6 separate regions of the Homo sapiens genome follow, and all the other regions are reported to be linked to region 1. Evidence: microRNA targets listed by miRTarBase, many of them from high-throughput screens and not tested one by one. Region 1 holds a microRNA gene; each other region holds the end of a gene's coding sequence.
Evidence for each region. The annotated mature microRNA hsa-miR-1307-3p reads ACUCGGCGUGGCGUCGGUCGUG and lies in region 1 at 3,783-3,804, shown strand. An mRNA with a match to its seed (bases 2 to 7 or 8) in the 3' UTR can be bound and repressed. Matches are read on the target gene's strand: a 7mer-m8 pairs with bases 2 to 8, a 7mer-A1 pairs with bases 2 to 7 and ends in A, and an 8mer does both.

Region 1 (5,292 bases):
CTCTGCCTTCAAAGAACATGCACACTTTTTGGAAGATAAAACAATTATGCAAGTAACTTAAAATGCAAATCAGATTATAAATGATCACAAAGATGTAGGAAGGGATAAGGCAATGTAGGAAGGGATAAGTAAAGGAGGCAAGCTTCATAAAGAAGATCTTTTTTAGCTTAAGGGTAAAAGATGAACAGAAGCTTGACAGGTAGAAAGGGAATGTGAGAAAAGACATGGATGGGAAAAGCCTATTATTTCAATAAACACCAGCAATTTCCCTATCAAACAACTGCTCAAAGGCTTGCTGTTGTCTCTGAGGAATTATTCAACTAGACCACTGGGAGATTAAAGCATAAAAATTGAAGTTAAATTTTAAAGAAGGCCGGGCACCATGGCTCACACCTGTAATGCCAGCACTTCGGGAGCCCGAGGCGCGTGGATCATCTGAGGTCAGGAGTTCGAGACCAGCATAGTCAACATGGCGAAACCCCGTCTCTACCAAAAACGCAAAAATTAGCCGGGCGTGGTGGCCTGCGCCTAGTCCCAGCTACTAGGCAGGCTGAAGCGTGAGAATTGCTTGAGGCCGGGAGGCGGAGGTTGCAGTGAGCTGAGATCATGCCGCCGCACTCCAACCTGGGAGACAAAGTGAGACTCTGTCTCAAAAAAATTAAAGGAGAAGTTGGGCTTTTTTGTGGAAGACCTTGAATTAGATATGGGTAGTTTGCTTTGGCAAGTCAGAGACTTAAGCAGGGAAAGCGAGAGAACAGTAAGCAAGAAAAATATACTGCAGGCTATAGATTGGACATGAAGAGAGACAGTATTGAAGGCAAGTAAATTCGGTAGAAGGATTCAAATGCACTGTTTCCTGTTATCTCAGTGACAGAAAAAAAAAAAAAAAAAAAGGATTCAAATGCAGTACAGCAGAGAAACCATGAGAACCAGAACTGGGTATAAGTGAAAACAGAAGACAGGAGAGGTTAGTTCTGACAGACACTTGGTAATAAGACTCTACAAGGGCTTTAGACTAAAGAAGTGATGACCGGGTGGGGCCAAGGATATGGAATCAGGGATGGGTATATGATTCATAGAAACAGGAAAGTTTGGGGGGTCTAGTTTGCTGATAATTTCACCCTTAATTTCCTTTCAAGCAAGGGGAAACTGAGGCTCTGAAAAGTAAGGCGATCCAGGGGCACAGAAGATACTTAGGCTACTTTCCGAACACAAAGCCTGGGGTTACAGGGGCTGCTACAACAGAGCCGGCTTCGAAGCGGGGCTAAGGTGGCCGAACCACACTCATCTAGCGTGTGCCTGGCAGGGAACCAGGCCTGGGACAGACCTGACAGCCATGAGGTTTCCTCCTTTTTCGCCTCTGCCTTTACTCACCAGCGCCACGGCGTCTGCACCCAGCTACCACTAACCTCGCGCCGCGGTACTCACACACGCGGAGACCAGGATACCCACAGTCCAGTGCAATTCTTCCGGAAGTGTGGGCGGGCTCAACACCCTACTTCCGTTGCTGTGTTGCGGAGGTGACCTAGAGACAGGAATCGGAAGGGCGGGATTTGGAGCCATAGCCAATCGTCGCATTAGGCCGAATCGCGGGGGCCGGCTAAACGCGTGCGGGGGAGGTGGCTTCTTCCGGCCGGGCCGAGAGGTGGTTACATTCGTTGAAGGACACCAGCTGCGGAATTTGCGGCTTTGGCAGGTGGGTGAAGAGGGGAGTCCGGGCTTGGACCTGGCGCCTGCACGTTGCAGGACCGCCCGCCGTTTCTGGCCGAGGAGCAACTCGAGTTCTTAGCTTTGGAGGAGAGAAACGGTGGGGAATGGGAAAGGAGCTAGAAAAAACGAGGGGCGCAAGGGGGCGGCCAGCGGGTGAGAAGCCTCGAGGTGAGGCGGATAGGTGCGCCCAAGGGCTCCCACAGTTTCCGAAGACCCTTAGATTGCATTCGCCAGTGGAGAAAAATGAGGCCCTCCGCGAAGCGTCCCTCGAGGTCACCCAGTGACGTAATATTGGACGAGGACTAGGGCTTCTGATCCCCATCACCGGCCGAATTAACCTCTTTTCTTCTGTATGTCCATAGCTGTTTGTTCCCACCGAGCTGTGCTTTAGGAAGCTGGCCAGCCGGGCCTCCTTTAGGTGCGCTGCAGCCTTTTTCAAAGCGAGTGAATGTGGCCCGGCCCCTACAGTTCGCCAGGCCCGCTGTAAAAGGGTTAGATTTCAGTCTATAGACGATCAGTGGGAAGGCCTTTCCTAGGAGGTAACCAGAACAGAGAGCTGTAAACTCCGTGAATGCAAGAGGCTGCTTCTGTTACCTGAGTGGTTCTCACTCATCTTTGCCTTCCTTACCTCGTGATCTCACCATTCCAGGTAGGTGTTAAGTTAGAAAGGAAAATAGCAATATCGAGGAACAGAGAAAGTAACAAGAGCTACTGGTCACTTTGGACCTTTAATAAAGTGCCCATCTCACAGGTGGAGAGAGGCACGGAAGGATTAGTTACATTTAAGAGCAGTTAGTGGCCGGGCGCGGTGGCTCACGCCTGTAATCCCAGCACTTTGGGAGGCCGAGGCGGGTAGATCACCTGAGGTCCAGAGTTCGAGACCAGCCTGAGTAGTATGGTGAAACCCCGTCCCTACCAACAATACAAAAATTAGCCGGGCGTGGTGGCGCGCGCCTGTAGTTCCAGCTACTCGGGAGGCTGAGGCAGGAGAACCGCTTGACCCCGGGAAGCGGAGATTGCAGTGAGCTGAGATCGCGCCACTGCACTCCAGCCTGGACGACAGAGCGAGACCTTGTCTCAAGAAGGGCAGTTAGCAACTTAATTAAAACATACCACCGTTTAACAACATTAAATCACAACTAGGAGTCTTACAAAGGGCACTGTAAACACAAGGGTTCCTTTATCTTTGCCCTAAAGTAACCTGCACCGTGCTGAAGAGTGCAGAACCAAATTTTTCGACCTTACTCCATTATCTCACCAGCAACAATCCCGTTCCCCATTTGGCCCTCCATTTGAGCCTCTCAAGAGTCCTCCTCCTTTAAGACCCAGACTAACTTGAGTGATTGATTTCAGTTCTTGAACCATGCACTTCCCTGCAATCAGAATTAGTCTTCTGTGGGATATCACAAAACATCAGCCTTCCTCCCATATTGTGTGTAAATTAAAGGGAAATTTAAAGCGCTGTAGTATTGTTGGGCATATCCTCCTAAAAAGTTTAGTTAGATGTAATGTAGTGGAGGTTTTCGTTAATGGTCAAAGTGAAGCCCTTATTTTCTGTAGCGTTTCTCCTAAAAACCTACTTCAAACCCTAAGAAGTGAATCCAAAAATGTATCATGAAATGAATGGAGCTGGTGGGGGGGCGGGGGGCGGGGGGAAGTATGTCTTTAGTAAGTTTAGTAAAGTGGAACAGTTGATAGCTACATTATAAAGTTGCTTTTATCGCTTCTGTTGGCTAAGATCAAGTGTATAAAGTTATTTTTAATGGAGATTTTCCTACTTGGGCTAGACTGGCCAAGGTCTCTGAAGAGGCCTAAGGAAGTTTGGATTTCCTTCATTGCTCCAAGAACCTTCTTGAAACTTGAAAATTAAGGTCATTTTTCTCAAATTTTCATTGCCAATTCTTTACACAAGAATGCCTCTGAAAGCCTTTGAATGGGGGAGTTCCAGTTTCCATAGTAATGACTCCCTGACAGATATCTCCCTCTTCCATTTCATCAAGACCCAGCTGAGTCACTGTCACTGCCTACCAATCTCGACCGGACCTCGACCGGCTCGTCTGTGTTGCCAATCGACTCGGCGTGGCGTCGGTCGTGGTAGATAGGCGGTCATGCATACGAATTTTCAGCTCTTGTTCTGGTGACCTTTTGAATACGTCTTGTCTATAAAAGAAATTCATGCCTTTGTAAAATACACAGGTACTATAGATTAAGCTGCCTTTGCTATATATTCTTCCAGAGTTTTTTTTAATACACTTACTATTTTTCTATTTCATTTACTGCAGTATTTTTCAAACTTTAGCATGCTTTAGAATTATCTAGAAGCCTTATTAAAATAGATTCCTGGACCCAGAGTTTCTGATTCAATAGGTAGGGCCTAAGAATTTGCACTAACAAGTTTCCAGTGATGCTAATGCTGCTGGTCTAGGGACAAGACCCAGAACCATTGACGTGCTTTATAAAATCCAGAAATAAGATTTTTTCTTACAAAATTGAACGTTACTTGGGACATCTTCCCATGTCAGTACACAAAGATCTGTGCCTGTTGTGTGTCGTTTAATGGAAACCATCATTTTTTAATCAGTCTTCTATAGATGGACTTTTAAGATTTTCATAAACAGTATTTCATTGACCATCTTTGAACCACACAATGTGTTTCCACTTTGTAATATTTCAATAAGGGTAAATTCCTGGAGAAAAACACCAGCTAGATGAAAGGGTATACTCATTTTATAATTCGATAAGATACTGCCAACTTGCACTTTCTGAAGGTTGTACCAGTTTATTTATTTTTTATTTATTTATTTTTTTTTTTTTTGAGACGGCGTCTCGCTCTGTCGCCCAGGCTGGAGTGCAGTGGCGCAATCTAGGCTCACTGCAAGCTCCGCCTCCCAGGTTCATGCCATTCTCCTGCCTCAGCCTCCCGAGTAGCTGGGACTACAGGCGCCCACCACCACGCCCGGCTAATTTTTTGTATTTTTAGTAGAGACAGGGTTTCACCGTGTTAGCCAGGATGGTCTCGATCTCCTGACCTCGCATCCACCCGCCTTGGCCTCCCAAAGTGCTGGGATTACAGGCATGAGCCACCGTGCCAGGCTGGTTTTACCAGTTTATACTCCAAGCAACAGAGAGAGAATTCTTAGTTTTCTCACATACTTAATACTACTACTTACCATAATTTTATTTTTGCTTGTTTGATGATTAAATATTGATCTCATTTTACATTTCTTTGACTAATAGGTTTTATGTTTTTTTTGGTTTTTGGCTTTTTTTCTTAATATTTTCCCTTCCCTGAGATGACTTAAATATTTCCCCATGTTTTCTTCCAGGACTTTTTGGTTTCACTATTTACATTTAAATCTTTTATCTATTTTGGTGGTGGTGCAAGGATTCCAGCTTCCTTACTACCACCAGTAGCTATTATTAACTCCATTTAATAAATTATCCCTTCTCCCTTCTCCCATGGAGGTCCTAAATTACTTATAACAAGAAAAATTGTATAAGTAGGGGTTGTAATTGAGCTGTTTAGTTGATGGTCACCCGTTGAATGTTTGAAAAATACCAGCTCCAATTTTTGAGTAGCCT
Region 2 (4,000 bases), not on the chromosome of region 1:
CCACTGGCACCGCTGCTGCCCCTGCCCCCACTCCCAGCCCCGCAGGGGGCCCTGACCCCACCTCACCCAGCTCGGACTCTGGCACGGCCCAGGCTGCCCCGCCACTGCCTCCACCCCCAGAGTCGGGGCCTGGACAGCCTGGCTGGGAGGGGGCTCCCCAGCCCTCCCCCCCACCCCCAGGTCCCTCCACAGCTGCCACAGGCAGGTGAGGGACCCCTGAGAAGATGCCAGGACTTATAGTACCCCCTCAGGACATGGACAGTATGTGGGGGCAGGAAGGTTATCTCCTCCCGGGTAAAGCCATTTCGTCCTCTCCAGTTTGGGGCGGAATGAGGCCTGCTCCTCTTGTAAATACCCCCTTCCCTCGAAGCTCCCTCCCGGTGCTGGGGGGCAGCTGAGGGGCTGCAGGGGCAGTCTCCCTCCTCCAAGCCCCTGTACATAACCTGGAGCGTGTGACCTTCAGAGCTTTTCACTTTATGCAAAATGGCTCCTGTGAGGGCTGCAAGCTGGAGGGTGGTGCAGGCCTTGGGCCACAGGGAGGCGCCTGTGGAATAGGGGGAGTTCATGCACCCCTTTTTTCCCCAGAGGGGCTGGACTCAGGTTAGTTTGGGGGTGGGGGCTCCTGCACTTTGCCACAGGCACGGGGAGGGTTTTCTCCTCACCCCCTCTGCCCTCCCAACTTGGGTTGTACTTTCTAAGAAGGTGATTCCCCCTGCCCTTGCCCCCTTCCCCAGAACAAAACATGTTGATCATGTGCAATATTTCTTACTGTGCCGAGAAGCCGCAATGAGCGAGATTAAAGCTGTTTAACACACCTGTGTGGCTGTAGGCTCTTAACAGGGAGGGCTGTTGGTTGTACCAGTCCTGTCCTGAGTTGTCATGGAGCGGTAGGCTTTCCATGAGGTGGGGGCAACAATTCCAGTACCACTGCCCCCAACTTCAGAGGAACCCCATAGGCCAGGTCCCTGACTTGCTGTGGACCAGATGGCCCCTCTCCAGTTTAGGAGCCTGTGCGCTCCGGGAGCCTCAATGCCTGCTGGCCCTGTTCTCAGCCATTGGACTGCGTGAGTTTGGGGAAGGCCTGAGGCAAGATGCCACTGGATGGTTTACCCTCACTGGCTCTGGGGTCATTCGTACTCAGGAAACAGGTCCCAAGAGGTCCTAGCCCAGAGGTGGCAGTGGGTGGGAGGGAGCCTAGTCTACCTGGAATACCCTTGGTCCTCAGTGTGACCCCTGCTGCCCCCATGTGGCCTGGGCCTGCACTGCAACTGGGCTTGAAGGAACCTCCCCTGGGTGACACCCCTCCTGCTCAGCATGTGGACACAGTGCCCACCTGAGGTGACAAGATACCTACACCCTGTGTGGAGGGATGACAACTAGGAGTGGGAGGGTCAGGACACCTCCACAGAAGTGGCATCTAAGCTAGAGATGGAGCACCAGGAAGTTCCAGCCAGGGCAACCGCATATGCACTGGGTCACTATGTTCCCAGAATTCTTGCCTGAGCTTGGTCCTGTAGGATAGTGCTGGAAAGCTGGTCTTAACTAGTGTTTACTGATTGGTAACGCCTGCCTGAAGCACACTATTGTGATAGTGGAAATTAACCTAACCACAAGAATCACAGTGCCTTAATGGATCAGTGATACCTGCCCTGGGCAGAAATAGAACCACAGCCAGGCATGGTGGCTCATGTCTGTAATGCCAGCACCCTGGGAGGCCGAGGCAGGTGGATTGCTTGAGCTCAGGAGTCAGATCAGCCTGGGCAACATGGCAAAACCACTTCTCTACAAAAAATACAATAAGCTGGACCTAGTGGCACATGCTTATAGTAGCAGCTATTCAGGAGGCTGAGGTGGGTGGATCACTTGAGCCTGGGAGGTTGAAGTTGCAGTGGGCTGTGGTCTCACCACTGTACTCTAGCCTGGGTGACGGAGAGAGACCCTGTCTCACACAAAAAACACCTTGCAGAACTGCAGGGTCACAGATCAGGATAAGGACTAATGGTGGTACCCAGATACCCAGACAGGTTCGACCATAAAGCAGGAAACAGCACACTGAGGAAGGAGAGTTTAATGTTGTGGGAAGGCAGCAGGATGCTTAGGGTGCGGGCTCCAGCAGGGGAGCACCTTGGCCCTGGTCTTGGGCCAGCAGACGCAGAAGCAGGGAGTGCAGAGCCCGGCAAACAGGTGTGTAGCCCAGGCGGCTCAGATGCAGGTAATCATACATGTCATGATGGCTGATGGTGCCATCTGAGTGCACAAAGCCAGGGTCGGCATCTAGGAAGTGGGCCCGAGGGTGGCCAGCCAGTGCCGCCCGTACCAGCTCGTTCACCTGTCGGTTCTTCTCCCGAAGTGGGTTGGGATGTTGGCCTCGCGGAAGCAGGCCCTGAGCAGGAACACGAGGCGTAGTAAGGAAACAAGCATTTGAGTATCTTGTTCTCTGTGCCAACCTGTCCTCCACCCACCACCATGAAGTTTCCAGCTGCAGAAAACACTAGGGATGGGCAAGTGGGGAGGGTGGGAGGGTAGTTCCTAAATATCACATCCTAGCCCTCATTTAGCAAGAGACTTCTGGGTTTTACCCTCTTTCGTTTTCTTTTTTTTTTTTTTTTGAGACAGAGTCTTGCTCTGTCGCCCAGACTGGAGTGCAGTGGCGCGATCTCGACTCACTGCAAGCTCCGCCTCCCAGGTTCACGCCATTCTCCTGCCTCAGCCTCCCAAGTAGCTGGGACTACGGGCACCCACCATCATGCCCGGCTAATTTTTTGTATTTTTATTAGAGACGGGGTTTCACCGTGTTAGCCAGGATGGTCTCGATCTCCTGACTTCATGATCCGCCCGCCTCGGCCTCCCAAAGTGCTGGGATTACAGGCGTGAGCCACCATGCGCGGCCTAGCCTCTTTCCAAGTATCACTTAGAAAAATGTTGACATTGGCTAGGTTCAGTGGCTCACGCCTGTAATCCCAGCATGATGGGAGGCAGAGCTGGATAGGTCGCTTGAGCCCAGGAGTTCGAGACCAACCTGGGCAACATGGTGAAACCCCATCTCTAACAAAAATACACAAAAATTAGTGGGACATGATGGCGTGTGCCTGTAGTCCCAGCTACTCGGGAGGCTGACGTGGGAGAATCACTTGAGCCCTGGAAGCAGAAGTTGCAGTGAGCTGAGATCATGCCACCGCACTCCAGCCTGGGCAACAGAGCCAGATCCTGTCTCAAAAAATAAATAGGCCAAGGGAGGTTGCTCACGCCTGTAATCCCAGCACTTTGGGAGGCTGAGACGGGTGGATCACTTGAGGTCAGGAGTTTGAGGCCAGCCCGGCCAACATGGTGAAATGCCATCTCTACTAAAAATACAAAAATTAGCCAGGTGTGGTGGCACGCGCCTGCAGTCTCAGCTACTGTGAAGGCTGAGGCAGGAGAATCACTTGAACCCAGGAGGAGGAGGTTGCAGTGAGGCCAGATTGCGTCACTGCACTCTGGCCTGGCAACAGAGCAAGACTCTGTCCCAAAATAAATAAATAAATAAAAGATATCAACATCATGGCTCATGCCAAGGGATCAATCCGTTTTCAGAAGAGGAAATATCCTAGCTACCTACAAGTGATGGAGCCTAGATTTACCCCAGGAATGCCTGACAACTTTTGGCCTATTCAAGGTTTTTTGAGGGTTTTTCTTTTGTTTTCTGGTGAGACAGGGTCTCTGTCACCCGGGCGAGAGTGCAGTAGCATGATCACAGCTCACTGTTACCTTGAATTCCTGGGCTCAAGTGATCCTTCTCCTTTAGCCTCCCAAGTAGCTGGGGTTACAGGTTTTGCGCACCATCATACCCAGCTAATTCTTTTTTTTTTTGAGATGGAGTCTTGCTCTGTTGCCCAGGCTGGAGTGCAGTGGCACAATCTCGGCTCACTGCAAGCTCCGCCCCCCGGGTTCATGCCATTCTCCTGCCTCAGCCTCCCAAGTAGCTGGGACTACAGACGCCTGCCACCACGCCCGGCTAATT
Region 3 (5,292 bases), not on the chromosome of region 1:
AAAGGAAAACGCAATCATATGTCAACACGGAGTGCTGCATAGACTTGGGGAATGAATGGGGTGTGCGGCGTCCCTCATCCCCTCAGGTGAGGGCCTTCAGGAAGATGGCATATTTTCTGGTGTTGAGAATGGTTGTTATCCTAAAGAGACCCTCATTGTCTGCACACAGGTCAGGGCCCTTTGAAGTACGAGCAGACCTTGAGGAGTCCATGGAATTTGTGGATCCCGGAGTTGCTGGAGAATCAGATGAGAGCGGAGATGAGCGCGTCAGCGATGAAGAAACCGACCTGGGCACAGACTGGGAGAACTTGCCTAGTCCCCGGTTTTGTGATATCCCTTCCCAGTCTGTGGAAGTCTCCCAGAGTCAGAGCACCCAGGCGTCCCCACCCATCGCGAGCAGCAGTGCAGGTGGGATGATCTCCTCTGCAGCAGCCTCGGTGACCTCCTGGTTTAAAGCTTACACTGGACACCGTTAACGAGCATGGACCAAAACATACCAAATCTGCATCAAGAAAGTTCTTCTCCCACTACACTCTAGTAAACATTTTCTGTTTAAGTTAAGATAGTGTCTGGAACAAAGAGGTTAAAGTGTTGTTTTGTTTTGTCTTTTTAAGCAGGGAGACAAACATTTCTATTTGCCAAGTGGCCTGTGATGGTGACCAACATGCTTATGATAATTAAGAGAACAGGGGTCGAAGGTCTTTCTACCCAGACCAGTGCTGGTGGAAGGAGGACCTGTGCGTGTGGCCAGTTCTGCCAAGGAAGCAGTTGATTTGGGTTCCCTCTGGGCCCGGGCCACCGGGCCCACAGATATGGGTCAGTGTGCTGGTCCTTGCGGTGCTGAGACTGTTCCTGACACTTTAAGTTTTAGAGGTTGGTTGAATCACAAGAGGTGATTCTTGATTATTAGGACATGAAAGATAAAAGCTCTTTAATAAGAGTTTTTCTGCCATTGTTTTTTGTATGAGAACCAGCAGGCAATTTAAAATTTCTAATTTGGTCCTTTGATTTTGTTTGGGAGGGGTGAGTTACACGTATTTTATTCATGCTGCTCTGTCGTAGTTTGTCAGACATTCCTGTTTTTCTTTCCCCCACACACCAAAGAAAATGAAAGTCTTTTTCTTTAGGACCCACATCCATAAATGGAAGAAATCCTGGCTGCAATAATGTCTAGAGAGTTTTTAACTATTTTCTTGTATTCTGAGGGGAATTAAGCTTATTCTTACCTAGTTGAATTCCTGCCATCCACACTATGAGCATTTTGAAATTGAACTTATATTTTCTGGGTGAAAATAAGTCATGAAGGTCATTCCCTTATGTAAGCTCAATGCCTGCCTGGGCACAGGGGAAAAGCCACTTAGTTAAGTGGCCTCTGGTCATTCTTGTGGTGTCCACTTTCTTTCTATGGGATTGAGTAGGTGGCAGGTGTTTTCAGGGGAAACCATCCTACTTGTTTCCCCGAACTCTTTGTTGCTCTGAGGACACAGCTTTGCTCAGAAATGCAGCGCAGATCCTTACGGCTGATGCTACTCTGCTCTGTTCTGGGGAAAGCACAATATAAAGAAAGAATTTCCCAGCCAGGCGCAGTGGCTCACGCCTGTAATCCCAGCACTTTAGGAGGCCGAGGCAGGCGGATCACTTGAGGTCAGGAGTTTGAGAGCAGCCTGGCTAACATGGTGAAACCCTGTTTCTACTAAAAATACAAAAAATTACCGGGTGTGGTGGCGCACGCCTGTAATCCCAGCTACTCGGGAGGCTGCGGCAGGAGAATCGCTTGAACCGGGAGGCAGAGGTTGCAGTGAGCCGAGATTGTGCCATTGCACTCCAGCCTGGGCAACAAGAGCGAAACTCCGTCTCAAAAAAAAAAAGAATTTCCCTCAGCAGGAGATCATTTTCAGCTCACGTGTCTTGTCATTCTTTTAGTGACAATCTTACAAGAAAACTATAATGAGAGAGGCATTATGTACAAATATGTAAGTAGTTTATTTTTAATAACTGCAAAAAAATCCTATGTAACAACTACCAAAAGAAATCCTATGAAAGAGTCCTAACAGGCATTATTACCATATCTTATGTGATTGGCATGATAGCACCTCTGATAAATCATTCAGAGGTTTGCCATGCCCCAGCTTCTTTTCTCATCATAATAATTGTAGTTGATACTTTGCCTCCAAGTCCGAGGTGCTATATAGCTTTTGCTAATGGTATATTTGGTGTTTTGTATAGTTTTGGGTAGAGTTGCAGAACGGAGTTTATTTCTATCCGGTAGTCACAAATTCCTTGGCTCTATGAATTTTCCATGAAAGGAGGAAGTAGGCTTTTCTCGTTGTGGGTGGTCTTTTTTTTTTTTGGAGACGGAGTCTCACTCAGCTGCCCAGGCTGGAGTGTAGTGGCACCATCTCCGCTCACTGCAACCACCATCTCCTGGGTTCAAGCAATTCTTCCATCTCAACCTCCCGAGTAGCTGGGATTATAGGCACCTGCCATCATGCCCAGCTAATTTTTGTATTTTAGTAAAGACGGGGGTTTTCACCATGTTGGCCAGGCTGGTCTTGAACTCCTGACTTCAGGTGATCCGCTTGCCTTGGCCTCCTAAAGTGCTAGGATTACAGGCCTGAGCCACCGCGCCCGGCCCCTTATGGGTTCTTCTACACTGCTGGGATCTCTGTTTTAAGTGCTCAGCTTCATGATTGATTGCTGGGCTTCCATTTTCCCATCCAGTTCTGGAGTTCGTAGAGAGTGAAGATGGTAGACTTGAACAGATAAATAAACTTAACGATCTTGTAAGAGTTGTCTAGCTACTTAAAACCCTCAGAAGTAAGAGCTTAGTCTCACGAGTTGTAAGAGTGGGATTTGGAGCTTGGTGGTGGAGACTGACTTCAGCTGAGAGATGCACAACAGTCATGGTTTTCTTAAGCCTCTTATGAAACCATGAATGAGAGATGAAGCTAAAGAATAGAATCCAGAGATCACAAACTCATCTAGAGTACTTCCACAAAATTTACAAAGATGTGGGAACTTTATGGATAGGATATATTTTGTTTGTTGTTGTTAATATCAACTAGAGGCACTTTACATAGGGTTAAGTGATCGAACCCTTTTGTGGTTTTGAACACCAACATACTGGCTTACACTGCTGAAATATTTTGGGTTTCATTATTTTGCACTGGATCCACCCTGTAAATACTCTTAAGTATACATTTCAACCACTGTTTTTTCTACTCTTTTTGCTGCTCATTAAAATCTTTCATGTAGGTGCCAGAACCATATGTAAACAGCTTTTTAAAAAATTGAAGCTGGTATTTTGTTTAAACAAAAAGCCATAGAACTTGGTCATGTTTTCCATTTTAAAATGATTTACTGAAACAAAGTAATACTAATAAAAACCCACAGGCACCAAACAGGCTGCTTAAAATGGTCTGTTAAAGACATTTTTTGGTTATGGAATATAAGAAAAGTTTTGCACATCTGTAAGGGGGAAAAACAGTATATCACCATTGGGTAGAGTGGACGGGACTCATGTAAGGACTCAATTTGGGGAAGAGCATTCAGTGGCATGCTGTTAGAGGACTAGTGTCCGAGAATCTCCTCACAGTATCATGTTGCAGGAATTCCCCATTGCTCTGCAACTTCCAAACCAGTTTGAGTCATACAAATGTTTTCTAAACTTTTATTGTATTACTGCAATAAATCTTTTAACAGTACTTTGCTCATGTGTATGTCTTTTTCAAACTGTTCATTTGCACTGCTGCATCGAGGGTAGCAAGAATGAGATTGAACCCTGGAGTACTTTATACAAATTATAGAAGAAGTTTGTAGAATTTTTTTGCCAGGTAAGAAAAAATGTTAATATATTTTTTAAAATTATGGATTATGGTGGTATTAACAATGATCTTTCCCAAGCTGAGAAGCTGGTTGCATACTTTCCCTAAAGACGTGTTTTTCTTTGGTAGCCATCATTTGATGCATGTGACCTACAATGACCTGGTTTTGTGCAACAGACCCCTGGGGCAGAAGGCCTCTAGGATGCCCACGTGGAACCTGCCCAGACTTTCTTCAGGACAAGAGGAAAAGGGAAATGTTGGAACCACTCAGATGCCTGAGTAGCTTTGGAGAATCCCTCCCCAACCCAACACCCTTATTTTTTATAACTAATTTCTCCCAGGTGGGTAGTCGGCGGTACCCTTCAGATTAGATTATTGTAGAGAAGGACCACCTGCAGGTGGTGGAGAAGATACCAAGAGTGACTACTGTGGAAGAGCCAGGCCAGCCAGGATACCCTCAGGAGCTATTGCCATGGTCATACTGCCCCTTTATCTGGAGCAGAAGGCTGGCAGGCAACAGGAGGAAATAGGCAAGGAAACGGAAGGGTTCTCGAACAGGGTGTGTGCTTTGGTGGTACTGTCCTTCAGTCTTTCCAGGCAGCAGTTTAAAGCATGCTCCCATCTGGTGTTTAAAGGGAGATTTCTCCATCCTGAGTTATGTCATGATTGATGCAGGAAACAGATTGGGAGGAATTAAGGATAACTTTGTCATTGGTAGTGGGGAGATTATTTAAAAGTTGCATCAATAAAATGTACCAGAAAACTTGAAACTGGACTCTTGGGCAAGCCATCTGCACCTCAGCCTTGAAATTCAATGAGGAAAACCACCACCAGCCGACTTGGTAAGAAAATACACTGCAAAGAGTATTTTCCAGTGCTTAGATAGTTGAAGTGAATTTTTTTTAGGGCGGGGCACAGTGGTTCATGCCTGAAATCCCAGCACTTTAGGAGGCCAAAGGCAGGAGGATTGTTTGAGCTCAGAAGTTCAAGGCCAACTTGCGCAACATAGTGAGACCCCATTTTTGTTTTTTTTTTTTTTTTTTTTGAGATGATAGAAGAGATGATAGAGTCTCACTTTGTTGCCCAGGCTGCAGTGTAGTGGCACGATCTCGGCTCACTGCAAGCTCTGCCTCCCAGGTTCACACCATTCTGCCTCAGCCTCCTGAGGCAGGTGTCTGCCACCACACCTGGCTTTTTTTTTTTTTTTTTTTTAAAGTAGAGATGGGGTTTCACCACATTAGCCAGGATGGTCTCAATCTCCTGATCTCGTGATCTGCTCGCCTCGGCCTCCCAAAGAAGTGCTGAGATTACGGGCGTGAGCCACTGCGCCCAGCCAGTGAGACCCCATTTCTACAAAAATTGAAAAATTAGCCAGGCATGGTCGTGTGCATCTGTGGTCCCAGGTACTCAGGAGGTTGAGCTGGGAGGATCACATGAGCCTGGGATGTTGAGGCTACAGTGAGCTGTG
Region 4 (4,000 bases), not on the chromosome of region 1:
TGTTTTCTTCTTGGACCCTCCATAGCAACCAAGAGATGTTTAAACTCTCATCCATGGATGTTACCCATGCTCACTTGGTGAATAAATTCTGGCATTTTGGTGGTAATGAGAGGAGCCAGAGATTCATTGAGCGCTGCATTCAGACCTTTCCCACCTGCTGTCTCCTGGGGCCTGAGGGGACCCCTGTGTGCTGGGATCTAATGGACCAGACTGGAGAGATGAGAATGGCAGGCACCTTGCCGGAATACCGGCTCCATGGCCTTGTGACGTATGTCATCTATTCCCACGCCCAGAAATTGGGCAAACTTGGGTTTCCTGTCTATTCTCATGTAGACTACAGCAATGAAGCTATGCAAAAAATGAGTTACACACTGCAACATGTTCCCATTCCCAGAAGCTGGAACCAGTGGAACTGTGTACCTCTGTGATGCCAATCCTGAACATAAGACAGTGTTGGGCAGGTCTGGGCGTATAATTTGAGGAGTGGATGGTGGATGAAAAGAAATAATAAATTGTAATCAGCAGTAAAGGAGTGGGCACTGTTTGGACTCTGGGGAAGCAGTGTGATGTTCAACAGCATCGCCATGGTCCCTGCATTCACAGGTTTCTCAGTGGGAAGCAGGCCCAGGTCCTCTTACATTTGACATAAGCAATTTACCTCCCCACATTTCCAGGACCTCTATGACACTTCATCAGATACATATTGCTCCAAATTACTTCTCCTGGAATCCCTGGTTCCTCAGTTGCAAGACCCTTGCCAGTTTTTCTGGGAGCTAGGAAGAGGTGAATTAAATTTTCTGAGCACTATGACTTCTTTCTTTCTAAAGCCTTTCCCTTATGATCAACAAGTGGACTCTCCTCAGCAGGTCTTTAGAGATTATCCTCTCCTGTTATTGCTACTTTATAGGTACATTAAATATACTGGACACAAATATATATGGGATATTAGGCTAAATACAGTATACATGATATAGCAGGGAATGTTACTAGAAGAAATATCAACTGATGATATCCTATCCTCTCCAAGCTCCTATTCCAGGAAAAAAGATCCAATGTTTTTTCTAAAGATGAGCTTCCAAAACCCACAACTCCTAAATAATACAGAAAGTTTTGTGTTTGACTGTATACAATTTTTATTGTGTTTGTTCAAGCTAAGTGGTTCATCATGGTGACAGCATGAAAGGAATGAGTGTATGAAAAGGTGAAGGTGGGAGCACCTTGACCCAGGGATGTGATGGTTTATTGAGGAGAGATAGGAGTTGAAGGGAGAGGAGACAGCATGAACACCTGCTTGTCCAATTAGCCTCAGCACATTACTAATCTCAGTTTGTTCCTGCTGTAACAAAATACCTGAGACTGGGTAATTCATAAATAACAGTCTGAACTTATTTGTTTATTTAAAATAATAATAAAATAATTAAAAATTTATTTATCACAGTTCTGGAGGCTGGAAGTCTAAAATCATGGTGCCAGCAGATTTGGTGTCTGTGAGAATCCAGTCCCTGCTTCCAAGGTGGTGCATTATTGCTGTGTTATTTGTAGGGGATGAACACTGTGTCCTCACATGGCAGAAAGACAGAAGAGCAAAAAGGAGCCCAGCTAATTTCCTCCAGTCCTTTTTCCTTCAGGCACAAATCCCATCCATAAGGGTGGACGTTCTTGTGGCCTAATTATCTCTTAAAGACTATCTCTTAATACTGTTACATTGAGGATTAAGTTTCAACATGAATTTTGGAGGAAACACAAACATTCCAATTATAGCATTACTTCAGAATGCCTGAACTCTATTAAAAGTTTAGATAATTGTCTCAAACAAGAGTCAGTTGAGGGGGAACAAGAGAGATAATCTTTCAGGTTGCAACAGGTTAGGACAGCTTTCTATTTTTTTTTTCTTTTTTTGAGACAGAGTTTCGTGCTGTCACCCAGTCTGGAGTGCAGTGGCATGATTTTGGCTCACTGCAGCTTCCACCTCTCAGGTTCCAGCGATTCTCCTGTTTCAGCCTCCAGGGTAGCTGGGATTACAGGCATGTGCTATTGTACCGAGCTATTTTTTGTATTTTTAGTAGAGATGGGGTTTAACCATGTTGGCCAGTCTGGTCTAGAACTCCTGTGAAAGGGGAACAATAAATGTTAATCACCTACAGATTGTGTTTGCTCCAGGCTTTCGGCATTGTGCTTGTGCTGAATAAAAGCAAGCAGCTCCAGCTTCTCAGGGCTGCATTCTGGCCACTTGAGCCAGGCAGTTACCTAGCTGCTCTTACACTGCATATCTGTGTCTGAGTACTCATTTCATCCATCAGTTGTCTGTCCCACAGACCCAGCATTGAATGTTTAACCTATTCCCAGACATCTTGGAGGCTTTGTTCATTGTTAAAAATTCTTTGTTCTTTGCCTTTGACATATTGGGTTATTCGAAAGCCTTGTCTTCAAGCTCTGAAATTCTTTCTTCTGCTTGTTCAATTCTATTGCTGAGATTTTCCAGTGCATTTTGCACTTCTCTAAGTGTGTCCCTGATTTCCAGAAGTTGTGATTGTTTTTTATTTATGCTATCTATTTCACTGAAGAATTTTCCTTTCATATTATGTATCGTGTTTTTTATTTCTTTCTCTGGTGTCTCCTTGATTAGCTTAATTATTGACCTCTGAATTCTTTTTCTGGAAATTCGGGGATTTTGCCTTTGTTTGGATCCATTGCTGGTGAGCTGGTATAATCTTTTGGGGGTGTTAAAGAACCCTGTTTTGTCATATTACCAGAATTGTTTTTCTGGTTCCTTCTCATTTGGGTAGACTATGTCAGAGGGAAGATCTGGGATTCAAGAGCTGCTGTTCATATTCTTTCGTCCCATGGGGTGCTCCTTTGATGTAGCATTCTCCCCCTTCCCCTGGGAATGGGGTTTCCTGAGAGCCAAACTGTAGTGATTGTTTTTGCTCTTCTGAGTCTAGCCACCCAGTGGAGCTACCAGGCTCCAGCCTGGTACTGAGGAGTGTCTGCAAAGAGTCCTCTGGTGTGAACTGTCTTCCAGTCTTGCAGCTATAGATACCAGCACCTGCTTCAGTGGAGGTGGCAGGGTAGTGAAGTGGACTCTGTGAGGGTCGTTGGTTGTTTTTGTTTAGTGCACTCATTTTGTGTTGGTTGGCCTCCAGCCAGGAGGTGGCACTTTCAAGAGCACATTAGCTGCAGTTCTATAGGGAGGATGCAAACTTGCCCTAGGGACACCTGGTTAAGTATTCAGGTTTCTCAGGTGGTGGTCAAGGCCATAGAGCTCTCAAGAGATTATGAGAGCTCTCATAATCTTGTCTTTGGCTACCAGTGTGGTTAGAGAAAGACCACCAGGTGGAGGCAGGGATAGGCATGTCTGAGCTCAGCCTCCCCTTGGGCAGGGCTTGCTGTAACTGCTACTAGGGATGAAGGTGTAGTTCTCAGTCCAATGGAGTTATATTACCAAGAGGATTATGGCTGCCTCTGTTGAATCATACAGGTCACCAGGGAAGAAGCCAGCAGTCATAGGCCTCACCCCACTCTCTGCAACCCACAGTCCCAAAGGCTGGTCTCACTCCCACCATGCCCCCCAACAGCACCAAGTCTATTTCCAGGTAGCCAGTTACCAGGACTCAGAGCTTGCCCCAGACCACAAGCCTCCCCATTGAGAAAGCAAACAGACTCACTGTTTTTCAGTGTCTCAGGGAGCCTGCAGAGGTAATCCAGTTTCTTCAAATGGTCTGTGGATTCTCTCAGCTTTCCTGGTATGTACCCACGGTAGTTCTTGGAGCAGAATTTCAGGATGTGAGTCTTCATACACGGCTCTGTCCATCCGAGTGGGAGCTGCAAGCTAGTCCTGCCCCCTATCTGCCATCTTAATCTCAATTCCTAGGTTGTTAATTTGAGATCTTGCTAACTTTTTGCTGTAGGCAGTCAGTGCTATAAACTTTCCTCTTAACACTGCTTTGGCTGTATCCCAGAGGTTTTGGTATGTTTTGTCTCTATTTTCATTAGTTTCAAA
Region 5 (5,292 bases), not on the chromosome of region 1:
CTCTTGGCTTGCATGCCCCAGCCTGAAAACCTCACCTCTCTCCCCTACCCTGGCACTGCATCATGTTTAAGGTTTATTTCCCGAAACACCAACCTCACCCATAACAGTTCATCTTTTTTTTTTTTTTTTTTTTTTTTTGGTTATTTTCCAGAGAGCCTCCAGGAGGAACTCAGTAAGTTACCATTCCCCCAGAGATCCAGACATGTCTTCCTATCCTCGCTTTGAGCACCTTGATGACTCTTCCCTGTTCATTCCATTGCAGAGAGGAAAAAAATCCAGTACTTGACTCGTGAGTGGCTTTGACATTTTCTCTGAATTCAAATCTGTTACTCTCTCTCTGCTTCATTATTTTCCAGCCCATAAGTCATAGCCCAGGGTTGAAAAGTGGTCTTGGATCCCTTTACCCAGAAAAAGAAAACAAGTGTGGCTCTTTGGAGAAACCACCCAGTGCTTTTTCTCTCTAGAAAAAAAAAAAAAAAAAAAAGAGGTCTTCAATCTCTTTGTACTAGGGGCTACAGACCCTTAAGCTCTAAAAAGCACTGAGGAATATCCAGGGGTACACTTCAAAAGGAAGAGGGAAGAGAAGGATGAGGTGCATTTTCTATGGCAGGAAACTTACTTGTTGTTTCCCATAATCTAGAGGCTGTTGAAAGGAAAACAAGAATGGAAGATTTAAGAAATAAGAAAATCAGAAAAGAGAGAGGGAGGGAGAAAAGTGTGTCTAATAAAGAGGAGTAGCTACAGTGGCTCAGTTGGTACAGATAGATCATAACTGCTTTCAAAAACTAGTCCCTGAAATTGCTCATTAAATTTCCCAAATTCTTTTTAGAGCAAGGTACGAAATGATACAGATTGAGAAGGATGAATCTTGTACTCCTAGGCATACACATATAGACATGGTGACACCTATGCCCAGGTACACATTCAAAACAGATGAGCTGGACCCCATTGGGAAGGAACTCTCACAGTGCCTGCCCTGCCACTAGCGTTCAACCGATGTTCCCAGACTTGATATTAAGAAGAGGTGAAGAAAGAATTGTACCTGAAGATGGAGACCATGGGGAAGGGTGGGATGGTAAAAAAAAAAAAAAAAAAAAAAAAAAAAAAAAAAAAAAAGACTAGATGGATGCAAAAAGAAGGGGAAGGGGCCAACACAGAAAAGGCAGAGTTCTGGTGACACCTCTACCTTTCTTTCATTGTAGGTGGAGAGGAGTCTTCGTCCGATACCAATAAGTCAGCCTGATGCTCTGTAAGTTTGCTGGGTCACATGCCCTGAATATTTCAACTTTTTCTCCACTGTGACCCGTGGATGTTCTCAGCTGGATTAATTAGATCTAATCTAAAGACTCAATTTCTGTGTGGTGGGGGTTCACCTCCGCTTTTCTGGAGCCTCTGAGAAACTCCTGATCCTGCACACCCCCTTGTAAAGCCTGGCCATGCATCCTGCACCCCCCATGACACAGGGAGCCAAGCCTGACATTTTTGAGAAGGTGCCACCTCTGATCCATCAGAGCTGTAGAGGAGGGAAGCTGGACCCTGGAAGAGACTCTAAAGAAAAGGAGAGAAAACATGTAGTGAGAGGAGAATGGAGTGGGAAAAGTACAAAAATACTGACCTTTTTCTTATCTGTGTCTCCTTCCTTTCAGAATGGAAAAATGGCCCTCTTCAAGCCTGGTGAGTAAATCACTGCATGTTCCCTGGACCAACAACCTGAGGGACTATATTCCTTTTTCCTTTTTTCTTCTCCAACTCTTGTGATTTGGAGCAGAAAAGTTCCCTTGACTTCCTTCGTGGGTAGGAAGACGCATAAAGGGTGGAGGTGAAGGGAAGGAGACACACACTGAGTAATACTGCAGGGAGAGTGAGGATGGAAATGCCAAGGAGAGGAGGTGATGCCTGCCCAAAGAACTTTGTCCTTCCCAGGCTTCTCATGCCACCTACTGCCTGTATCTCCTCAAAGGATTTAATGCTTCCAAGCTTTGGCCTCCACATTTTTAGATGATGATTGCAATCTGTTTTTCATGGGGGTTGAGGTGAAGACTGAAGGAATAATGAACATGCTTGGCAGAAACCTAGCAAGAAATAGATGGTGAGCTCAAACTGGGTAGTTGGACAAGGTTTCCAGAAAGAAGGGTTAAGGGAAAGCAACAAGGAAAAGTGCAGTGCCCCCATGGTTCCCAACAGTGGGGAGCTGTCTCCACCCCTAGCCTGGGAGGGCTAAAAAGGGGAGGCAATTACTGGAACCCAGAGAAAGAGGTAGCTTAACGAGGGAGCTTCCTGAGAAGAGTCCTCGGGCCTTGTTAGAGCACCACCAGCTGCTGCTGGCAGGGAGGAAGCAGGAAATTAAACGGTGTGTATCTCCTTTCTTTCTCCTTCTAATCTTCTATCAGGGCCTCCCATTGGCCAAACACAGCAGCAAACCAGAGGACAAGGGAGCCCAGTGGCACTGTCCATAGAGGACAGATTCCTGGGGTCCAGAAGAGGGTGGAGAAAGCTGAAGGCTGGAGAGTGAATCTAGGGCATATAAGGCCCCACACAGAGCCCAGCACAGAGACGGCCTTGCAGCTATCAGGAAGATGAGGAGCTTCCTTCATGGCCTGCTGTGGGCTGAGTAAATAATATGATTGCCTTCTACAGCGCTAGAGATTCATATGTTTATCCCCATTTTTCAGGTGAGGAAATGCTTCAGATGAGGCTCCACCTTGTTAAATAAATTGGATGTATGGAAAAATAGACTGCAGAAAAGGGGAACTCATTTAGCTCACGAGTGGTCGAGTGAAGATTGAAAATTAACCTCTGAGGGCCAGCACAGCAGCTCATGCCTGTAATCCTAGCACTTTGGAAGGCTGAGGAGGGCGGATCACAAGGTCAGGAGATCAAGACCATCCTGGCTAACACGGTGAAACCCCGTCTCTACTAAAAATACAAAAAATAAAAAATTAGCCGGGCATGGTGACGGGCACCTGTAGTCCCAGCTACTCGGGAGGCTGAGGCAGGAGAATGGCATGAACCCGGAAGGCAGAGCTTGCAGTGAGCCGAGATCACGCCACTGCACTCCAGCCTGGGAGACAGAGCGAGACTCTGTCTCAAGAAAAAAAAAAAAAAAAAAAAAGAAAAGAAAATTAACCTCTGAGTATAAAGCATCAGTGGGCAGAATCAATGTGGGGAGGGAAACAACAAAAATGTAGAAAGAGGATCCTTGTTGCTTCTTGGGGCCGCATCAGGGTATTGGGTTAGGCAGATACTGACCTTACTTTCATTTCCCCTCTGGTCACTAGACCCCTGGGGCTTTCACCAATGACATTGATGAGAGAATCACATTCAGGGCAGGCTAGGGACACGGGGTTCTGGAAGGACCTCCTCAGCATGGCCCAAGCCTTGCATGCTGTGGCTCTTAAATCCAGGAAAAATGGCTGACCCCATGGACACCTCCTCAAACTCTCTGCAGCAGATGTAATTCTGTATCCAGACATGGCAAATGCCATCCTCCTTGTTTCTGAGGACCAGAGGAGTGTACAGCGTGCTGAGGAGCCCCATGACCTACCAGACAACCCTGAGAGATTTGAATGGCGTTACTGTGTGCTTGGCTGTGAAAGCTTCATGTCAGAGAGACACTACTGGGAGGTGGAAGTGGGGGACAGAAAAGAGTGGCATATTGGGGTATGTAGTAAGAACGTGGAGAGGAAAAAAGTTTGGGTCAAAATGACACCGGAGAACGGATACTGGACTATGGGCCTGACTGATGGGAATAAGTATCGGGCTCTCACTGAGCCCAGAACCAACCTGAAACTTCCTGAGCCTCCTAGGAAAGTGGGGGTCATCCTGGACTATGAGACTGGACATATCTCGTTCTACAATGCCACGGATGGATCTCATATCTACACATTTCTGCACGCCTCTTCCTCTGAGCCTCTGTATCCTGTATTCAGAATTTTGACCTTGGAGCCCACTGCCCTGACCGTTTGCCCAATACCAAAAGTAGAGAGTTCCCCCGATCCCGACCTAGTGCCTGATCATTCCCTGGAGATACCACTGACCCCAGGCTTAGCTAATGAAAGTGGGGAGCCTCAGGCTGAAGTAACATCTCTGCTTCTCCCTGCCCAGCCTGGAGCTAAGGGTCTCACCCTCCACAACAGCCAGTCAGAACCATAAAGCTACAGGCACACACTGAAGCACTTTACTGATATTCATTCAATTATTCCATAGGACAGTTGTTTGAGTTTGGTGCCACCTTATTGGCCCCTTTATACAGATAAGGAAACTGGGGTGTAGAAAAGTGTATTGACTTTACAAAGCAGACAGGAATAGTGAACAACAGAGCTGGGATCTGAACAACAATGACTAACATTAATGGAGAATTTAAAACGTTCTGAGTGCTGTGTTATGAGCTTTGGTGGGTGTCACTCCTTTAATCCTCACAACACCCTGTCAGGTAGTCTCATTTGGCAAGTATGGAAGCAGAGGCAGGGCAACATTAAGTAGCTTACATAACTCACACGGTAATTTGTGCAGTTGGGAGATGTTCAGCTTCAGTCCCTGGCCAATTGCCCGTTCTTTTCCAGCCTGATTTTTCCTGCATGGGAAGAGCCCACATGTAGCCCTGAGGTTCCCTTCCCAGGACAGCTCCAGGATCGAGATCACTGTGAGTGGTTGTGGAGTTAAGACCCCTATGGACTCCTTCCCAGCTGATTATCAGAGCCTTAGACCCAGCACTCCTTGGATTGGCTCTGCAGAGTGTCTTGGTTGAGAGAATAACGTTGCAGTTCCCACAGGGCATGTGACTTTGAAAGAGACTAGAGGCCACACTCAGTTAATAATGGGGCACAGATGTGTTCCCACCCAACAAATGTGATAAGTGATCGTGCAGCCAGAGCCAGCCTTCCTTCAGTCAAGGTTTCCAGGCAGAGCAAATACCCTAGAGATTCTCTGTAATATTGGTAATTTGGATGAAGGAAGCTAGAAGAATTACAGGGATGTTTTTAATCCCACTATGGACTCAGTCTCCTGGAAAAGGATCTGTCCACTCCTGGTCATTGGTGGATGTTAAACCCATATTCCTTTCAACTGCTGCCTGCTAGGGAAAACTGCTCCTCATTATCATCACTATTATTGCTCACCACTGTATCCCCTCTACTGGGCAAGTGCTTGTCAAGTTCTAGTTGTTCAATAAATTTGTTAATAATGCTGACTCTTCAACTTGGTTTTTTCTAGACTGTGGTGTCTACTCAGCACAGTAGAGTAGTCTACATACCCACTGTACTCCCCACAGTTTCAGTTTGCCTCACTGCAGCA
Region 6 (5,292 bases), not on the chromosome of region 1:
GTGTCCCCAGCCACCCCCCTGCATCTGCCACTTGCCTGAAGGCAGCCGTTGTTACGGCATTCTTTTCTTGGCCTATATTAGAGTTAGAGCTGGGAGCTGATTGAGAACTGGGGATCCACCTCTCTTGTGGAAAGGATCTGTTCCTCTCAGTGGCCTTCCCTGCTTTCTGGGCCAGTAAGGTCCAGGTTTTGCATAACTGTTGAGTGGATTTTCACTAACAAACATAATAATTAAAAAAAATTGAAACGTGATTTGCCTATGTGATCTGTCCATCTGGAATTCATGTGAAATACATTTCACCTGCAGACCTGGGCTTTTTAAACTTCTCCCTTGCAAATTGCTCATTCCCTACCTTGCTGCTTTCTCCTGTCATCTGTCTTTCCCAGGATTTTTTTCTCATAGGACTGCAGGACCAATCTCCTGTTTCCTTCCTTCTTCTCTTGTGGTGAACAGACTCTAAGATGGCCCCCATGATCCTACCTCCTGGTACTCATGCCCTTGAGTGTGGGTGGGGCCGGTGACTTGCTTCTAATAGAATAAGAACAGGTGATGGGATGTCACTGCTGTGATCAGATTACATAGGACTGTAGTGTTCCTTCTTCCAGCAGACTCCTTTACTAGCTTTGGTGAAATGGGTGGCCGTGTTGAGGAGATCCCTTTTGCAAGGAACTGAAGGTGGCTCTAGCCGACAGCCAATGAGAAATGGAGGGCCTCTGTCCCACAGGGAACAAAGAACTGACGCTATCAACAATTACACAGACTTGGAGGCAGATCCTTCTCCCACTGAGCCTGGGGATGAGATCAGAGCTCTGGATGACACACTGATGGCAGTTTTCAGATGAAACCCTGAGCAGAGGACCCAGTTCAGCTGTGCCCAGACTCCTAATCCACAAAACTTTGAGACCATAAACATGTATTGTTTTAGCTGCTAAATTTGTGGGAATAGTGTAGAAGTCTTCTTTTGCCCCTGGAGTATGGCAAGGTTCAGGCTATTGTCCCATGACCACGAAAAATTAGGCACATGGACATGGAGAGTGAGTAGGGCAGAGTAGAATTTATTGGGAAAAAGGAAAGCTCTCAGCAAAGACAGGGGTCTTGAAAGCAGGTTGCCAGTAAGGCGTCTGTGTTCTGTGTCTTTTATGTGGCAGAAGCTGGGAAGTCTTCTGTGGGTTTTGCCCAGATGAGAGAAGTAACATTTTCTTCTTGGGGTACTACAGCTGTGCATGCCTAAGTTTTGCCAAAGGGACTCCATCTTGGTTATTACCCATGAGTGCCTAAGCAAAACCCATGGGGGTGCTAAAACCACAATGCTAATGTCATGTTTAATGACATTATAATGAGCTGGGTTAAATTAGGGACATTTAGGCTGATTTATTGTGCCCGCACCAAAGTTGGGATGGTCACTTCTGAGCAACATCCTAGCTTAAGGGTAACTTCTTCCGTTTTTCCTATTAACTGTAGAGGCAGTATAGGCACTGTCTTGCCGTTGTTCTTGTGAACATAGTTCCTTTCTATCCCTTCTCCTGAGACCTTCCCTCTCTATGTGCCTATCCATCCCTTAACTACCTCCTCTCTTAACAGTGTTACACAGCAATAAATAATGCATTCCCTTTTTGATTTCTGGTCATATCATCGATCTAGCCCCAGGGGCATCCTCAATTTCTCTGTCCTGCCTTAAATACACAAGGGTAGAGCATACCGCTCCCTCACACTATGGAAATTATATCAATAGTTATCAGACTGAAAAACTTCTGAGCTTTATACCTCTTCTGGCCAAAGGCTCCCCCATGCCCAAGATACTGGCCTGAACACCTAATCCCTGCTCACAGGGGGTGGCAAAACATGGCAGTTGAATTGTCTGCTTAGCACCTTCTGTCTGTACTATTCCTCCTGACATCACTGGGTATCCCTGCCATTTGGGCCCTCTGACCATCACTAGAGAGATCCTTGGCTTCTGGTCCATAGGGGATGGCAATCTGGCCCACAGGCCTATCTCTGAAGACTATTCAGACTCTGCTCTGTGAAAGGAGAGTGGTGCCAAGTCATCTCCACAGGAGTCAGTGTTTCTTAAGTTTGCTTTCTTTTCTAAAAACTAGTTTCTACTACACAAGCAATGCATGAGCACATTCTCTTAGTTAGAAAAGCAAGTCTTAGCCTTAACTTGGAAATGCCCTTTAACTTCCACCATGGAGTCTGGGCCTTTATCCCACTTGCCTGCAGTAAGACTGTTATGAGTTTGGTGTTTCCCTCCAGACTCTTCTCTATGCTTGGAGATCTTTTTTATTTTTTTAAGAGACAGGGTCTTGCTCAGTCACCCAGATTGGAGTGCAGTGGCAAGAACACAGCTCACTGCAGCTTCAAATTCCTGGGCTCAAGTGATCCTCCCACCTCAGCCTCCTGGGTAGCTGGGACTATGCATGAGCAATTGCGCACAGCTAATTAAAAAAAATTTTTGGGAGACAGGGGTCTCACTATGTTGCCCAGGCTGGTCTTAAACTCCTGGCCTCAACTGATCCTCTCACCTCAGCCTCTGAAGGTGTTGTTATTACAGCTGTGAGCAACCACACCTGGCCTGTTTTGGGGATCTTTGCATGTTAGTTCACACAGTTCAGTCTCATTCTTCCGTTGCCACATGGTACTCCATAGTATTGACAGGTATTTACACGGTTTCCACTTATTTGTCATTACAGACAATGCCACAGTGAACATCTTAGTATATGTCTCTTTGAATGTTTTTTTTTTTTTTTTTTTTTTTTTTTTGAGACAGAGTCTCGCCCTGTAGCCAGGCTGGAGTGCAGTGGCGTGATCTCGGCTCACTGCAACCTCTGCCTCCCAGGTTCAAGCAATTCTCCTGCCTCAGCCTCCTGAGTAGCTGGGACTATAGGCACATGCCACCATGCCCAGCTAATTTTTGTATTTTTAGTAGAAACGGGGTTTCATCATGTTGGCCAGGATGGTCTCGATCTCTTGACCTCGTGATCTGCCCACCTCAGCCTCCCAAAGTGCTGGGATTACAGGCGTGAGCCACCAAGCCCGGCCATGGATGAGTTTTTATAGCATGGAATTGCTGGGTCATAGGATATGATTTAAATTTTACAATTGTCCTCCAAAGTAGCTATACTAATTTACAACTTGACCAGCAGGAAATGCATATCACTTTCCTAAGCCTTGCCAACACTTTAGAAACTTTTTACTCATCGGATAGAAGGAAATATGGTTTCTCACTGTTGTAATTGATAATTCCTTACATCATAAACATCTTTTAGACATTTTTGGCTATATTTCTATTTTATAAATTGTTCATGGATTTTGTCCATTTTTAAAAACTCAGTTGTCTTAATGATTTATAGGTCTTTATATAATCTTTATACTAGTGCTTTTTGTCTCACTTGTCATTTATTTGTGGGTGCCTTAGGAAAAGTTGTAGAATTTGATCCTATTCAATTGGCAAATCTTTCCTTTGTGATTGTTATTATTTTAAAAAGTAAAAGAATAAAGAATGGCTACTCCACAGGCAGAGCAGCCTATGGTTTTTTTCTTTTTACGTCTTTAAAGAAACTTCTCCTACCCCGTGGTCACAAAAATTCTTACATTTTCATCAATATTTCAACAGCTTTGTGTTTAATGTTGGGCCTTAAATTCCAGATTAATTTTAGTGAATAGTGTCAAGTGGGGCTCTATTATTTTTAATGAGTAAGCAATTGTCCCAACTCTATTGGCTAGCCCACCAGTCTGAAATACTGCCTTTATCACACTAAACTCCCATGTGTACACAGGACGGTTTCCGAACTCCGGTTAAGTCCATCAGTACCACAGTTTTACTTGTGTTATCCTCACCCAGTCTTCACAGGGACTCCAGTCCCATTTAACACACCTGCTCTCTCCAACTGTGCAATCTCGTTTTTTCTAGTACCCACTCTCAGGGCTTGGGCATGAACCTACAGCCCTTGAACTCAGTTGGGGAGTAGGGAAATGCCAGTATCGCAGCGATTCAATTCATATCTTGATGATTCTCCACATATCCTTTTTCCCTTTTAGCCTTTATACCCAAGAGAAACTCAGCTGGACACCAGTAACATAAGTGCTATTCATTGAAAAGAGCAAAGCAAGAGCGCTGACCCCTTACGGACAGGATGAAACAAAACAAGCTCTGCAAGTCTGCCTCCTGCTCAGCATACAGGCTTGTTGCCCCACTGGGCCATCTTGTTGTTGATGGGCATCTTGCAGAACTGATCAGACTGTAAGTAGGCAGCGATTTTCTCCAAAGCCTGAAAGGAAAATACACCAAATCTTATAACGACCCCAACCCAGTCCAACAGATGCATACCAGAACAGCAACATTCACGTGTTGCCTGCGTCTACCTCCTCCATTTTTTTGTAGACAGTGCCTCCAAGGTATAGAAGTTAGGCTCTTCCCAAGACTTAAAGGTCTAGAGGTGTCCAACCATTGATCCCATTAGGCAAAAGCCGGGGAAGAATCCTCCACTATGGGATCCTGCAGGTCCCAGGGGAGCCTGTGAGTGTTTTTATAAGAGAAAGGTGCAGGAAACGTCACCTCAAAACGGCACATGAAAGCCTTCAGGTTTGGGAACTCATCCAGGCACTTGGGGTCAAATATACGGTTCTGATCCAAGATATCATAGGTGAGAAAATCCACAAAGGTGAGCTAGAAGAAAAGCAATAAGATGCTTAGGTCTGAGGAGTAGTAGCCTGCAGAGATAGAGAAGTATCCTCTTCTTTTCCCTTCTTCCTACCTTTTCCCCGGCAAACCATGAGAATTTCCCCAGAAACATGGAGAATTGTTTCAGTTGTCCAGGTAGCTCTTCCAAGTACTGAGGCTTCAGTTTTTCCTGAGAGGAAAAAACAGAATGAGAATAGTGGTGATCATCTTTGTAGTTAATCAGGGCACAGGCCAGTGATGGACACTTAGTAGCCCCTTCTCTAGGTGGGTTCTCATTGCCTTCACTTGAGGATGGCAGGGTGGGGAAAGAGGAGTTTAGAAAGAAGAGGCACCAGCACCAGAATTACATGACAAAACAAACCAAAAAATATAAGTTCTGTTTCTTATTCTAACAATCTGGATTGGTGGGAAGGTAGCAGCAGCAGAATGGAACAGAGATAACCCTTGGGTTCCTAAATACCCCTTTTTCTGATACTCCATTCAGCAGATGTGTGCTAAGGAAACTCACGTGGTCAGAGCTGTAACAGAGCCTTATCAGTTGTGTGCGGAAATCCATTACTTGGTTCTCTATGATGTCCACTCGAATCTTTTCTTCTTCAGTCTCACCACCT

Region 2: miRTarBase lists CIC as a target of hsa-miR-1307-3p. Seed matches in the 3' UTR shown: 7mer-A1 at 773-779.
Region 3: the mRNA of ATG14 is a reported target of hsa-miR-1307-3p. Seed matches in the 3' UTR shown: 7mer-A1 at 1,803-1,809.
Region 4: the mRNA of GLYAT is a reported target of hsa-miR-1307-3p. The part of its 3' UTR that is shown has no 7-base or 8-base seed match.
Region 5: miRTarBase lists BTN3A2 as a target of hsa-miR-1307-3p. Seed matches in the 3' UTR shown: 7mer-A1 at 3,035-3,041.
Region 6: the mRNA of GSTM3 is a reported target of hsa-miR-1307-3p. Seed matches in the 3' UTR shown: 7mer-A1 at 2,807-2,813.

What each region holds. Positions count from the first base shown.
Region 1 is chr10:103,392,813-103,398,104 of GRCh38, reverse strand. MIR1307 (microRNA 1307) reads left to right here and starts at 3,704; the gene lies at 3,704-3,852. ATP5MK (ATP synthase membrane subunit k) reads left to right here and starts at 1,630. Exons shown (of 5, transcript NM_001206427.2): 1 at 1,630-1,696; 2 at 2,073-2,359. It overlaps PDCD11 (programmed cell death 11), which reads right to left and starts at 1,479. Exons shown (of 36, transcript NM_014976.2): 1 at 1,375-1,479. RefSeq lists enhancers at 1-493, 494-995, 1,653-1,902, 2,053-2,142, 1,535-2,367.
Region 2 is chr19:42,294,983-42,298,982 of GRCh38, forward strand. CIC (capicua transcriptional repressor) reads left to right here. Exons shown (of 21, transcript NM_001386298.1): 21 at 1-814. The coding sequence ends at 209. It overlaps PAFAH1B3 (platelet activating factor acetylhydrolase 1b catalytic subunit 3), which reads right to left. Exons shown (of 5, transcript NM_002573.4): 5 at 2,053-2,383. The coding sequence ends at 2,096. Among named protein-coding and RNA genes, the nearest start is that of PRR19, 5.1 kb to the right of the region's middle. RefSeq lists an enhancer at 767-836.
Region 3 is chr14:55,364,803-55,370,094 of GRCh38, reverse strand. ATG14 (autophagy related 14) reads left to right here. Exons shown (of 10, transcript NM_014924.5): 10 at 170-3,704. The coding sequence ends at 476. It also overlaps a transcript of FBXO34 not described here. Among named protein-coding and RNA genes, the nearest start is that of ATG14, 44 kb to the left of the region's middle.
Region 4 is chr11:58,706,194-58,710,193 of GRCh38, reverse strand. It overlaps GLYAT (glycine-N-acyltransferase), which reads left to right. Exons shown (of 6, transcript NM_201648.3): 6 at 26-1,437. The coding sequence ends at 428. Among named protein-coding and RNA genes, the nearest start is that of GLYAT, 24 kb to the left of the region's middle.
Region 5 is chr6:26,373,125-26,378,416 of GRCh38, forward strand. BTN3A2 (butyrophilin subfamily 3 member A2) reads left to right here. Exons shown (of 11, transcript NM_007047.5): 7 at 152-172; 8 at 263-289; 9 at 1,203-1,249; 10 at 1,647-1,674; 11 at 2,673-5,188. The coding sequence ends at 1,243. Among named protein-coding and RNA genes, the nearest start is that of BTN2A2, 7.3 kb to the right of the region's middle.
Region 6 is chr1:109,732,902-109,738,193 of GRCh38, forward strand. GSTM3 (glutathione S-transferase mu 3) reads right to left here. Exons shown (of 9, transcript NM_000849.5): 6 at 5,190-5,290; 7 at 4,755-4,850; 8 at 4,556-4,666; 9 at 1,036-4,268. The coding sequence ends at 4,170. Among named protein-coding and RNA genes, the nearest start is that of GSTM3, 5.5 kb to the right of the region's middle.